Homo sapiens: one gene and its partner. The protein of the gene in region 2 interacts with the protein of the main gene of each other region in a biochemical or structural test. Each region holds a gene or a part of one and is shown on either strand. Other genes may lie near its edges. The genes, in order: BCL2 and PPP3CC.

What was found.
Region 1: the proteins of PPP3CC (region 2) and BCL2 form a complex in vitro, tested with the Homo sapiens proteins (one study listed by BioGRID).

The regions. Positions count from the first base shown.
Region 1 is NC_000018.10:63,122,613-63,127,829, reverse strand, and holds the end of BCL2 (apoptosis regulator Bcl-2), read left to right. Parts: 3' UTR 1-4,484; downstream 4,485-5,217. UniProt on the Homo sapiens protein: Suppresses apoptosis in a variety of cell systems including factor-dependent lymphohematopoietic and neural cells. Regulates cell death by controlling the mitochondrial membrane permeability. Appears to function in a feedback loop system with caspases.
Region 2 is NC_000008.11:22,443,856-22,451,148, reverse strand, and holds part of PPP3CC (serine/threonine-protein phosphatase 2B catalytic subunit gamma isoform), read right to left. Parts: intron 1-7,293. UniProt on the Homo sapiens protein: Calcium-dependent, calmodulin-stimulated protein phosphatase which plays an essential role in the transduction of intracellular Ca(2+)-mediated signals. Dephosphorylates and activates transcription factor NFATC1.

The DNA of each region.
Region 1 (5,217 bases), on a different chromosome or scaffold from region 2:
TATATTCATATATTTTGGATACGCACCCCCCAACTCCCAATACTGGCTCTGTCTGAGTAAGAAACAGAATCCTCTGGAACTTGAGGAAGTGAACATTTCGGTGACTTCCGCATCAGGAAGGCTAGAGTTACCCAGAGCATCAGGCCGCCACAAGTGCCTGCTTTTAGGAGACCGAAGTCCGCAGAACCTGCCTGTGTCCCAGCTTGGAGGCCTGGTCCTGGAACTGAGCCGGGGCCCTCACTGGCCTCCTCCAGGGATGATCAACAGGGCAGTGTGGTCTCCGAATGTCTGGAAGCTGATGGAGCTCAGAATTCCACTGTCAAGAAAGAGCAGTAGAGGGGTGTGGCTGGGCCTGTCACCCTGGGGCCCTCCAGGTAGGCCCGTTTTCACGTGGAGCATGGGAGCCACGACCCTTCTTAAGACATGTATCACTGTAGAGGGAAGGAACAGAGGCCCTGGGCCCTTCCTATCAGAAGGACATGGTGAAGGCTGGGAACGTGAGGAGAGGCAATGGCCACGGCCCATTTTGGCTGTAGCACATGGCACGTTGGCTGTGTGGCCTTGGCCCACCTGTGAGTTTAAAGCAAGGCTTTAAATGACTTTGGAGAGGGTCACAAATCCTAAAAGAAGCATTGAAGTGAGGTGTCATGGATTAATTGACCCCTGTCTATGGAATTACATGTAAAACATTATCTTGTCACTGTAGTTTGGTTTTATTTGAAAACCTGACAAAAAAAAAGTTCCAGGTGTGGAATATGGGGGTTATCTGTACATCCTGGGGCATTAAAAAAAAAATCAATGGTGGGGAACTATAAAGAAGTAACAAAAGAAGTGACATCTTCAGCAAATAAACTAGGAAATTTTTTTTTCTTCCAGTTTAGAATCAGCCTTGAAACATTGATGGAATAACTCTGTGGCATTATTGCATTATATACCATTTATCTGTATTAACTTTGGAATGTACTCTGTTCAATGTTTAATGCTGTGGTTGATATTTCGAAAGCTGCTTTAAAAAAATACATGCATCTCAGCGTTTTTTTGTTTTTAATTGTATTTAGTTATGGCCTATACACTATTTGTGAGCAAAGGTGATCGTTTTCTGTTTGAGATTTTTATCTCTTGATTCTTCAAAAGCATTCTGAGAAGGTGAGATAAGCCCTGAGTCTCAGCTACCTAAGAAAAACCTGGATGTCACTGGCCACTGAGGAGCTTTGTTTCAACCAAGTCATGTGCATTTCCACGTCAACAGAATTGTTTATTGTGACAGTTATATCTGTTGTCCCTTTGACCTTGTTTCTTGAAGGTTTCCTCGTCCCTGGGCAATTCCGCATTTAATTCATGGTATTCAGGATTACATGCATGTTTGGTTAAACCCATGAGATTCATTCAGTTAAAAATCCAGATGGCAAATGACCAGCAGATTCAAATCTATGGTGGTTTGACCTTTAGAGAGTTGCTTTACGTGGCCTGTTTCAACACAGACCCACCCAGAGCCCTCCTGCCCTCCTTCCGCGGGGGCTTTCTCATGGCTGTCCTTCAGGGTCTTCCTGAAATGCAGTGGTGCTTACGCTCCACCAAGAAAGCAGGAAACCTGTGGTATGAAGCCAGACCTCCCCGGCGGGCCTCAGGGAACAGAATGATCAGACCTTTGAATGATTCTAATTTTTAAGCAAAATATTATTTTATGAAAGGTTTACATTGTCAAAGTGATGAATATGGAATATCCAATCCTGTGCTGCTATCCTGCCAAAATCATTTTAATGGAGTCAGTTTGCAGTATGCTCCACGTGGTAAGATCCTCCAAGCTGCTTTAGAAGTAACAATGAAGAACGTGGACGTTTTTAATATAAAGCCTGTTTTGTCTTTTGTTGTTGTTCAAACGGGATTCACAGAGTATTTGAAAAATGTATATATATTAAGAGGTCACGGGGGCTAATTGCTGGCTGGCTGCCTTTTGCTGTGGGGTTTTGTTACCTGGTTTTAATAACAGTAAATGTGCCCAGCCTCTTGGCCCCAGAACTGTACAGTATTGTGGCTGCACTTGCTCTAAGAGTAGTTGATGTTGCATTTTCCTTATTGTTAAAAACATGTTAGAAGCAATGAATGTATATAAAAGCCTCAACTAGTCATTTTTTTCTCCTCTTCTTTTTTTTCATTATATCTAATTATTTTGCAGTTGGGCAACAGAGAACCATCCCTATTTTGTATTGAAGAGGGATTCACATCTGCATCTTAACTGCTCTTTATGAATGAAAAAACAGTCCTCTGTATGTACTCCTCTTTACACTGGCCAGGGTCAGAGTTAAATAGAGTATATGCACTTTCCAAATTGGGGACAAGGGCTCTAAAAAAAGCCCCAAAAGGAGAAGAACATCTGAGAACCTCCTCGGCCCTCCCAGTCCCTCGCTGCACAAATACTCCGCAAGAGAGGCCAGAATGACAGCTGACAGGGTCTATGGCCATCGGGTCGTCTCCGAAGATTTGGCAGGGGCAGAAAACTCTGGCAGGCTTAAGATTTGGAATAAAGTCACAGAATTAAGGAAGCACCTCAATTTAGTTCAAACAAGACGCCAACATTCTCTCCACAGCTCACTTACCTCTCTGTGTTCAGATGTGGCCTTCCATTTATATGTGATCTTTGTTTTATTAGTAAATGCTTATCATCTAAAGATGTAGCTCTGGCCCAGTGGGAAAAATTAGGAAGTGATTATAAATCGAGAGGAGTTATAATAATCAAGATTAAATGTAAATAATCAGGGCAATCCCAACACATGTCTAGCTTTCACCTCCAGGATCTATTGAGTGAACAGAATTGCAAATAGTCTCTATTTGTAATTGAACTTATCCTAAAACAAATAGTTTATAAATGTGAACTTAAACTCTAATTAATTCCAACTGTACTTTTAAGGCAGTGGCTGTTTTTAGACTTTCTTATCACTTATAGTTAGTAATGTACACCTACTCTATCAGAGAAAAACAGGAAAGGCTCGAAATACAAGCCATTCTAAGGAAATTAGGGAGTCAGTTGAAATTCTATTCTGATCTTATTCTGTGGTGTCTTTTGCAGCCCAGACAAATGTGGTTACACACTTTTTAAGAAATACAATTCTACATTGTCAAGCTTATGAAGGTTCCAATCAGATCTTTATTGTTATTCAATTTGGATCTTTCAGGGATTTTTTTTTTAAATTATTATGGGACAAAGGACATTTGTTGGAGGGGTGGGAGGGAGGAAGAATTTTTAAATGTAAAACATTCCCAAGTTTGGATCAGGGAGTTGGAAGTTTTCAGAATAACCAGAACTAAGGGTATGAAGGACCTGTATTGGGGTCGATGTGATGCCTCTGCGAAGAACCTTGTGTGACAAATGAGAAACATTTTGAAGTTTGTGGTACGACCTTTAGATTCCAGAGACATCAGCATGGCTCAAAGTGCAGCTCCGTTTGGCAGTGCAATGGTATAAATTTCAAGCTGGATATGTCTAATGGGTATTTAAACAATAAATGTGCAGTTTTAACTAACAGGATATTTAATGACAACCTTCTGGTTGGTAGGGACATCTGTTTCTAAATGTTTATTATGTACAATACAGAAAAAAATTTTATAAAATTAAGCAATGTGAAACTGAATTGGAGAGTGATAATACAAGTCCTTTAGTCTTACCCAGTGAATCATTCTGTTCCATGTCTTTGGACAACCATGACCTTGGACAATCATGAAATATGCATCTCACTGGATGCAAAGAAAATCAGATGGAGCATGAATGGTACTGTACCGGTTCATCTGGACTGCCCCAGAAAAATAACTTCAAGCAAACATCCTATCAACAACAAGGTTGTTCTGCATACCAAGCTGAGCACAGAAGATGGGAACACTGGTGGAGGATGGAAAGGCTCGCTCAATCAAGAAAATTCTGAGACTATTAATAAATAAGACTGTAGTGTAGATACTGAGTAAATCCATGCACCTAAACCTTTTGGAAAATCTGCCGTGGGCCCTCCAGATAGCTCATTTCATTAAGTTTTTCCCTCCAAGGTAGAATTTGCAAGAGTGACAGTGGATTGCATTTCTTTTGGGGAAGCTTTCTTTTGGTGGTTTTGTTTATTATACCTTCTTAAGTTTTCAACCAAGGTTTGCTTTTGTTTTGAGTTACTGGGGTTATTTTTGTTTTAAATAAAAATAAGTGTACAATAAGTGTTTTTGTATTGAAAGCTTTTGTTATCAAGATTTTCATACTTTTACCTTCCATGGCTCTTTTTAAGATTGATACTTTTAAGAGGTGGCTGATATTCTGCAACACTGTACACATAAAAAATACGGTAAGGATACTTTACATGGTTAAGGTAAAGTAAGTCTCCAGTTGGCCACCATTAGCTATAATGGCACTTTGTTTGTGTTGTTGGAAAAAGTCACATTGCCATTAAACTTTCCTTGTCTGTCTAGTTAATATTGTGAAGAAAAATAAAGTACAGTGTGAGATACTGGTTGTGCCTGGAATTGTTTATAATGTGTTAACATGATTTTGCCCTGCCATTCATCATCATTACACAAGACTTTGAAAAGCCTTCTTAACAAGCCAGTAAAATCACCAGGACCCTACTCTAATGAAGCCCTCAGGGACCAGGCTAAGGGATTGCCTTACAGGTGAAACCACCTTAGAAGGAGACTCTTGTTTCTTGGTAATAACCCTCCTGGTTAGGTACAAGATAGACCAGTCTTGAGTTCTACTCCCTGGGAGAGCTACTGTTGCTGTTGAGTGTGTTCTTCCATATAGACCAGAGATCCCAGCCTCTGCATTTTATAAGATGAAATGTGTATGAAAAAGAGGGAAATAAGCTGAAAGTTCTGTTTTGAAGTCAACATTTTTAGATGGAACCAAAGCAGCTACTTGCTTTGGAGCAGGTGAACCCTAAATGGCAAGGGATCTGATGTTTCCCACTGGGTTCAGGTCCTGATACCCTAATCCTCAACCCTTCAAGTCACATCACTTAGACTCAATTAAAAGGACTCTGATAGTAGCATTCATCTGTTGAGCACCTGCTGGATACAACACTGTATGCATACTACCTTTTGCTCTCAAACCTTTCAAGGTAGGTATTGGCCTCTTGTATTTTGTAGGAGATAACTGAGACTCAAGACGTTGAAACTATATGCCCAAGTTCTCAATAATCATAAATTACAGAGGCAGTATTTGAGCCCTGGTGTGGCTGACTCCAA
Region 2 (7,293 bases):
TAAATAAATGGGCCGGGTGCGGTGGCTCACGCCTGTAATCCCAGCACTTTGGGAGGCCGTGGTGGGCAGATCATGAGCTCAGGAAATCAAGACTATCTTGGCTAACACGGTGAAACCCCATCTCTATTAAAAAAAAAAAAAGAAAAATTAGCCGGGCGTGGTGGCGCGTGGCTGTAGTCCCAGCTACTCAGGAGGCTGAGGCAGGAGAATGGCGTGAATCCGGAGGCGGAGCTTTCAGTGAGCCGTGGTGGCGCCACTGCACTCTAGCCTGGGTGACAGAGCGAGACTCCGTCTCAATAAATAAATAAATAAATAAATAAATAAATAAATAAATAAATAAATAAATAAAAATAAAGTAGGTTGGGGATGAGGGTTGTGAAATGAGGAGGAAGAAATGGAACACAAGCCTAGAGAGGTTTAGCATGCAGGGTACTGCCCATCAACAAAGAGTTTATCCCACAGGCAGGAAGTGCTCATGAAGGATTTTGAGCACAAGAATGACCCTTGATATTGTTCACAGATCACGATGACAGCGTGGACAGACTACATAGTCTCAGCAAGAGGCTCCTGCAATGGCACAAGCAAAAGGTGTGAGAATAGGATGAAGTAGAGGATATGTACAAACCAAAGGTTCACAGCATTTAGTCTGGTGGGACTGGACATGCAGTAAAATGGAGAAGAAAGAGTCTGGCCTGATTCCCAGGCTGGTCATCTGAATCAGTGACTAAATGGGTGAGTGGTGCAATTAACAGGGATGAAAAATACACTTAGAAAATCCTTTTTTTCTCCTCTACTCATTAGTGTTAATATTTACTTTATCCCACTACCACCCCTTTTTTCACTTCAATCTCTTCAATAAAATTAAAAACATAGCTATTCCACTTTCCACATCAACTGTCTGGGTAATATTTGGATTTTCTATGATTTCAGAATAGGTTTATAAGTCTATTTGTTTTGGGTTTTTAAAACATGGTCATCACAGCCGGGCGCGGTGGCTCACGCCTGTAATCCCAGCACTTTGGGAGACCAAGGTGGGCAGATCACAAGGTCAGGAGTTCAAGACCAGCCTGACCAACATGGTGAAACCCCTTCTCTACTAAAAATACAAAAAAAAATTAGCTGGGTGTGGTGGCGCACACCTGTAATCCCAGCCACTCAGGAGGCTGAGGCAGGATAATCACTTGAACCCGGGAGACAGAGGTTGCAGTGAGCCGAGATTGCGCCACTGCATTCCAGCCCGGGCGACAGCGAGACTCTGTCTCAGAAAAAAAAAAAAAAAAGAAAAGAAAAAAATAACAGTCATCAAAATAGTCTTGCTGTCCCATTAATGAAATTGATGTCAACTGCTCCACCAGTTTTCAACTATCCCTCTTCTTTTTCTTCATTTTATGTATTTCAGTTCTCTGGCCCTTCTAGTTTGCCCATCTTCTCTCTACTTCTTAGTTAAGTACCTTTTCTTTCTCCATACTGACTTCTGTATGTTTTTCTAACCCCCATCATGCAGCTGAAACCACTACTTTTTCTGCTAAACAAGCTGCCTCCACTTCACATCAGCTATAATATTCTTTAAGGCTCATTTTCTTCTTTTCAGCTTTCCCCCATTAAGACACTATGGAATCCTCAAATATGATGACAGCCTTTCCTAAACCTAGCTGTAGCTGTTTTGAGGCATTTCCTTTTTTTTTTTTTTTTTTTTTTTTTGAGATGGGGTCTCAGTCACCCAGGCTGGAGTGTGGCGCTATCTTGGCCCACTGCAACCTGCAACCTCCACCTCCTGGCTCAGGTGATCCTCCCACCTCAGCCTCCCAAGTAGCTGGGTCCACAGGTGCAGGCCACCACACCTGGCTAATTTTTTATATTTTTTGTAGACACGGGGTTTCACCATGTTGCCAGGCTAGTCTCGAATTCCTGAGCTCAAGTGATCCAGCCGCCTTGGCCTCCCAAAGTACTGGGATTACAGGCATGAGCCACTGCGCCCAGCCAAGCCATTTCTTCATTGTACTTTTTTTCTCCCTAACTTTTTTTTCTTTTTTAAATAGAGATGGGTGCTCACTGTGTCACCCAAGCTGGAACACAGTAGTGCAATCATAGTTCACTGAAGCCTTGGAACTCCTGGCCTCAAGCAATCCTCCCGCTTCAGCCTCCCAAGCAGCTGGGACTATAGGCGAGAGCCACCATGCCTGGCTGTCCCCAACTTTACATTTTGAAAAACTGAAATCTATTTAAAAAGTGAAAGAATCATAAAATGAACACCCATATGCTCTTACCTAGATTCACCATAGTAAATGTTTTGCCACTTTCGCTTTTTTCTCTACAAATGATTTTTTTTTGAACAATTTAAAAGCAAATTGCAAAAATCACGACATTTCAACATACTAATACTTCATCAGGTATTGCCTAAAAATAAGATCATTTTCCTATATAACCATAATACCATATAGTCACATTCAAGACATTTAACAATGATATAGGCCAGGCACGGTGGCTCACACCTGTAATCCCAGCACTTTGGGAGGCGGAGGTGGGCAGATCACCTGAGGTCGGGAGCTCGAGACCAGCCTGACCAATACGGAGAAACCTCGTCTCTACTAAAAATATAAAATTAGCCCAGTGCGGTGGTGCATGCCTGTAATCCCAGCTACTCGGGAGGCTGAGGCAGGAGAATCGCTTGAACCCGGCAGGCAGAGGTTGCGGTGAGCCGAGATCACGCTATTGCATTCCAGCCTGGGCAACAAGAGCGAAACTCCATCTCAAAAAAAAAAAAAAACAAAAAAAAGGTATAATACCGTCTAATATATACACCATATTCAAATTTTCCCAGTTATCCCCAAAATGTCCTCTATGGTTTTTTGTTTTCTTAATCCAGGCTTGACACTGTACTTGACTGTCATTTCTCTTTCAACTTCTTTCATCTAGAACAGTCTTCCTGCCCTTTTTGTTTCGTTTCGTTTTCACCACTTTGAAATTTTTAGAGTTCAGGCCAACTGTCTTGTAGAAAGTCCCACAAACTGGATTTGTCTGATTGTCTACTATAACTAAGCTCAGCTTAAATTAAACACCTTTAGCAAGAATGTTACATAGGTAATTACTGAATGAATTCTTCAAATATTTCTCAGTGTTTGTTCATTTAGAATTTCAGTCTCTTGGGCTGACATTGTCTAGACACTGCAAAAAAACCTTCATGAACTGTTAGCAATTAGTAAATCTAGTAATGATCATCAAAGAAATACATTATCTTGTCCAGCCATCCAGTATATCTTTCTGTGCCCAATTTAAAGATCCTGGTTACCAAGTTAAACCCTCTTCAAACAACAAACGAAGACTCAAGAAACTAAAAGACTTCAGGATAATCTAAAGTGCCAACAAAACAAAATTGAATATGGGGAACTAAAAGTTCTCTCTACATTCATCTGGATAACCAGATAGAATATAAGGGTAACTAAGAAAGATACCACTTAGGTTAGGTTGAAAGTTTTAGGCCTCAGTTTTGAAATGTAAAATGCTGCTAAATTTTAACATTAAGACTATAAAAGGCAGGGCGCAGTGGCTCACACCGTAATCCCAGCACTTTGGGAGACAAAGGCAAGAGGATCGCTTGAGCCCAGGAGTTCAAGACCAGCCTCAACAACAGGGCGAAACTCCACCTCTATAAAAAATACCAAAATTAGGCCAGGCTCGGTGGCTCACGCCTGTAATCCCAGCACTTTGGGAGGCCGAGACGGGCGGATCACGAGGTCAGGAGACCGAGACCATCCTGGCTAACACAGTGAAACCCCGTCTCTACTAAAAATACAAAAAAAAATTAGCCGGGCATGGTGGCAGGTGCCTGTAGTCCCAGCTACTCAGGAGGCTGAGGCAGGAGAATGGCATGAACCCGGGAGGCAGAGCTTGCAGTGAGCCGAGATTGCGCCACTGCACTCCAGCCTGGACGACAGAGCGAGACTCTGTCACAAAAAAAAAAAAAAAAAAAAAATTAGTTGGACACGGTGGCGTATGCTATGCCTGTGGTTCCAACTACTCGGGAGGCTGAGGTGGATCACCTGAGCCCAGGAAGCTGAAGCTGCAGCGAGCCATGATCGCGCCACTGTACTCCAGCCTGGGCAACAGAGCGAGACCCTGTCCCCCACCAAAAAAAACTATAAACGGGCATTATAGTCTAGTAATGATTGCACCAAAGGATGGTAATGATTCTAAGACATCCCTTTATTCCCATTAGTCATTTAGCAATTAAGTAGCAGCAAAGTTCCAAAATGACTACAAATCCCGGAATTAAATGAATAATTTTGTCTCTAATAGAGACATGTCTAAAAATCAGCTTTTTTTTTTTTTTTTTTTTTTTTTTTGAGACAGAGTCTTGCTCTGTCACCCAGACTAGAGTGCAGTGGCGCAATCTCAGTTCACTGCAACTTCTGCCTCCCAGATTCAAACGATTCTCCTACCTCAGCCTCCTAAGTAGCTGGGACTACAGGTGTGCACCACCATGCCTAGTTAATTTTTGTATTTTTAATAGGGACTGGGTTTCGCCACGTTGGCCGGACCTCAGGTGATCCACCCACCTCGGCTTCCCAAAGTACTGGGATTATAGGCGTGAGCCACCACGCCTGGCCTAAAAATTAGCTTTTTCCAAAAATGTTACCTTAATAGAAAGACATTCAATTCCTAGTATCAAATACTGCTTAGGAAAAGGTCTTTAATTAATTATTTCACTTTAAGTAATGAGTCCTTAGCATTTTTCTCTCAGAGTCCCTTGTTTTTTTCACTTTACAGTAAGATGTGATTAGTATGTTACTTTACAAATATGACGTTAGACGCCAGAATAATGGTTACAAGTGTCATATTTTCCCCACTGTTGCCCATTTAGGGATGGAAACCAGTGGACTGAACGTGAACTCATGCTTGTTTCTGGGATTCTGGTAATCTATTTATTTTGGTTGAGTGGTTACATGGGTATGTGGGTGCTAAATTTGTAAAAACTCACTAAGCTGTACATTTATAATTTGTACATTTTCCCATATACACTCCAGTAAAAGTTATGGTACACTAAAAATTACGTAAGGCAAAAAAAATTTTTAATCCTATTTTAAAATGCAATAAAAGAGAGAAAGCTTAATTATCAAATGTCAGACCATAAATAAAGCTTTGATCACAACCAATAACGTATAGGTAAGAAAGAATACTTTATCCTTGCTCAAAAAGAAAAAAATTAAGTGTTTAAATTAAGATGCCCTTTCAGAGGTTCCAGATTTCTACTCAGATGTATGAATCTCGATTAGCACTGATTTTGAATGTTTCAAAAGTTTGGCAGCTTGTTAATCACAATGGTAAATGAAGCATAAATTAAACAAATACTGTTGACAAATCCAGGAGATATCAACTTTAAAACGTATTCACATTGAAAATTTATACTTGAAAATGTTTCTTCTGGGTTGGTATTGTATCAAGTGACTAATGTGTCCCCACTGAAAATATAAAGAACCAAAATATTAATATAAGCACTCTAAAACCATTTCCATGCTGATTGAAACCATTATGGAAATATTTAGGTAAAATTACAATATTTATGTTAAAATAATATGAAATATTTGCATAACAAAAGCTTTAATATGTGTGATCCATTTTCCTTTGAATTCAAAATATACCTGCAGATGGAAACACACAAAGGTATTAAAAGCAGTTATTTCTGCTGGGAAGGAATATGAAGTCTTTCTTTTCTTCCCTTTCTGATTTTCAAATTGTATAAGTAGCAGGATTAAGCTTATATTTAAGAGAAAAAATTTTAAACCCTCGGTAAATCCATTATGGATATAAAAAAGGGAGAGTCGGGGGAGAGTTGTGGAAAGAAATGAAGTATAGGTACCAGAGATTGAAATCGGGTTTAGGGTATATTTGTAGAAATAGCAATTTTTGTCCACACTAATATTAAAATATTTTAAGAAAGCCATAAGCACAATATTCCCAGTGCCACGATATTAAAGAAACAGTAGCCTGCCATGTGTGGTAAAAATGGTACAGTACTCTGTGAATACACAATATATTTGAATTCTAAGAGAAAGGGAGAAATGTATCAGCACCTTACTAAAAAGAAATCTGACTTTTCTGTTAAACCCCATCTGGCCATAAAGTAACAAAATAAGACAATGGATTCTCTATATTTGTCATGTAATTCCTACTGAAATTTCCTTGTTGCTTCTGAAAAGATTCATTCCAGGGAAATAAACTGCTTTTATAAAAATCACTGTCAAAGAAAAAACATGTCCTTAAACAGGAAAAGGAACGTGGAAACTAGAAAAAAAAATAAAGCAGACAGAATATCACAATTTAATCATTTGGGTGCCTAGTTCTCTGGCTTAGATACCAGTTATGGTGCCCCAGTGCATATAAACTGCTCTAAAGGCTCACAGAAATGCTACTTTTAAAGCAAAGAAGAAATGAATGAGCAACCTACTAGGGTACATTGCAGATGGCACTCAATAAACATTTAATGAATGAGTAAAATCATAAGAAGGTTTAAACATAAAATAAACACCTTCAACAGATAGAGAAGAAATCTGCTGCCTAGGGAGTACCAGACAGAACTGTGCTGATCTCTTCACATTGTTACCGACGAGATTTCACCCACATATCCATTATGCTGTAGAATAGGTATTCACCTGACTAGGAACAGTTTTGTAGCTTATAATTTCACATACTTTCTGATATTTTCAAATGTTAATGATATCTCTACTAACTACTTCTGTAGTAAGCGATCTATTACCAACCTATTATCATGTCTCAAAGTACTACCTTAACTTGACCTTTTCACATGCTTTATGTCACTTGCATGACCCAGGCTTGACAGGGAAGGTATTATTAACCCTATTTTACAGATGAGTTTTTTTTTTTTTTTTGGCTTGAGACTGAGTTTCACTCTTGTCGCCCAGGCTACAGTACAGTGGCACAATCTTGGCTCACTATAGCCTCTGCCTCCTGGGTTCAAGCGATTCTCCTGCCTCAGCCTCCCAAGTAGCTGGCATTACAGGTGTGAGCCACCACGCCCAGCCACATCCTTCAATTTAAGAAAGCTGCTATTTAAAGGACACCTAAAATACAAACCTCTCCCACATACCCACTCTTCTCCAAAATTTGCTCAAATAGAACAATTAGGTACACTTTAAAGTTAACAGGAAATGACAGAAACAAAAATAGCTGGGGTGTGGTATCACCTCTGAAAAAGCTTTCAAGCTGTGAATAAATGCAGACAGCTGTGACTAAACAAGATAGCATCAGACCAGGGTTTAGTACCCGTTACAATGG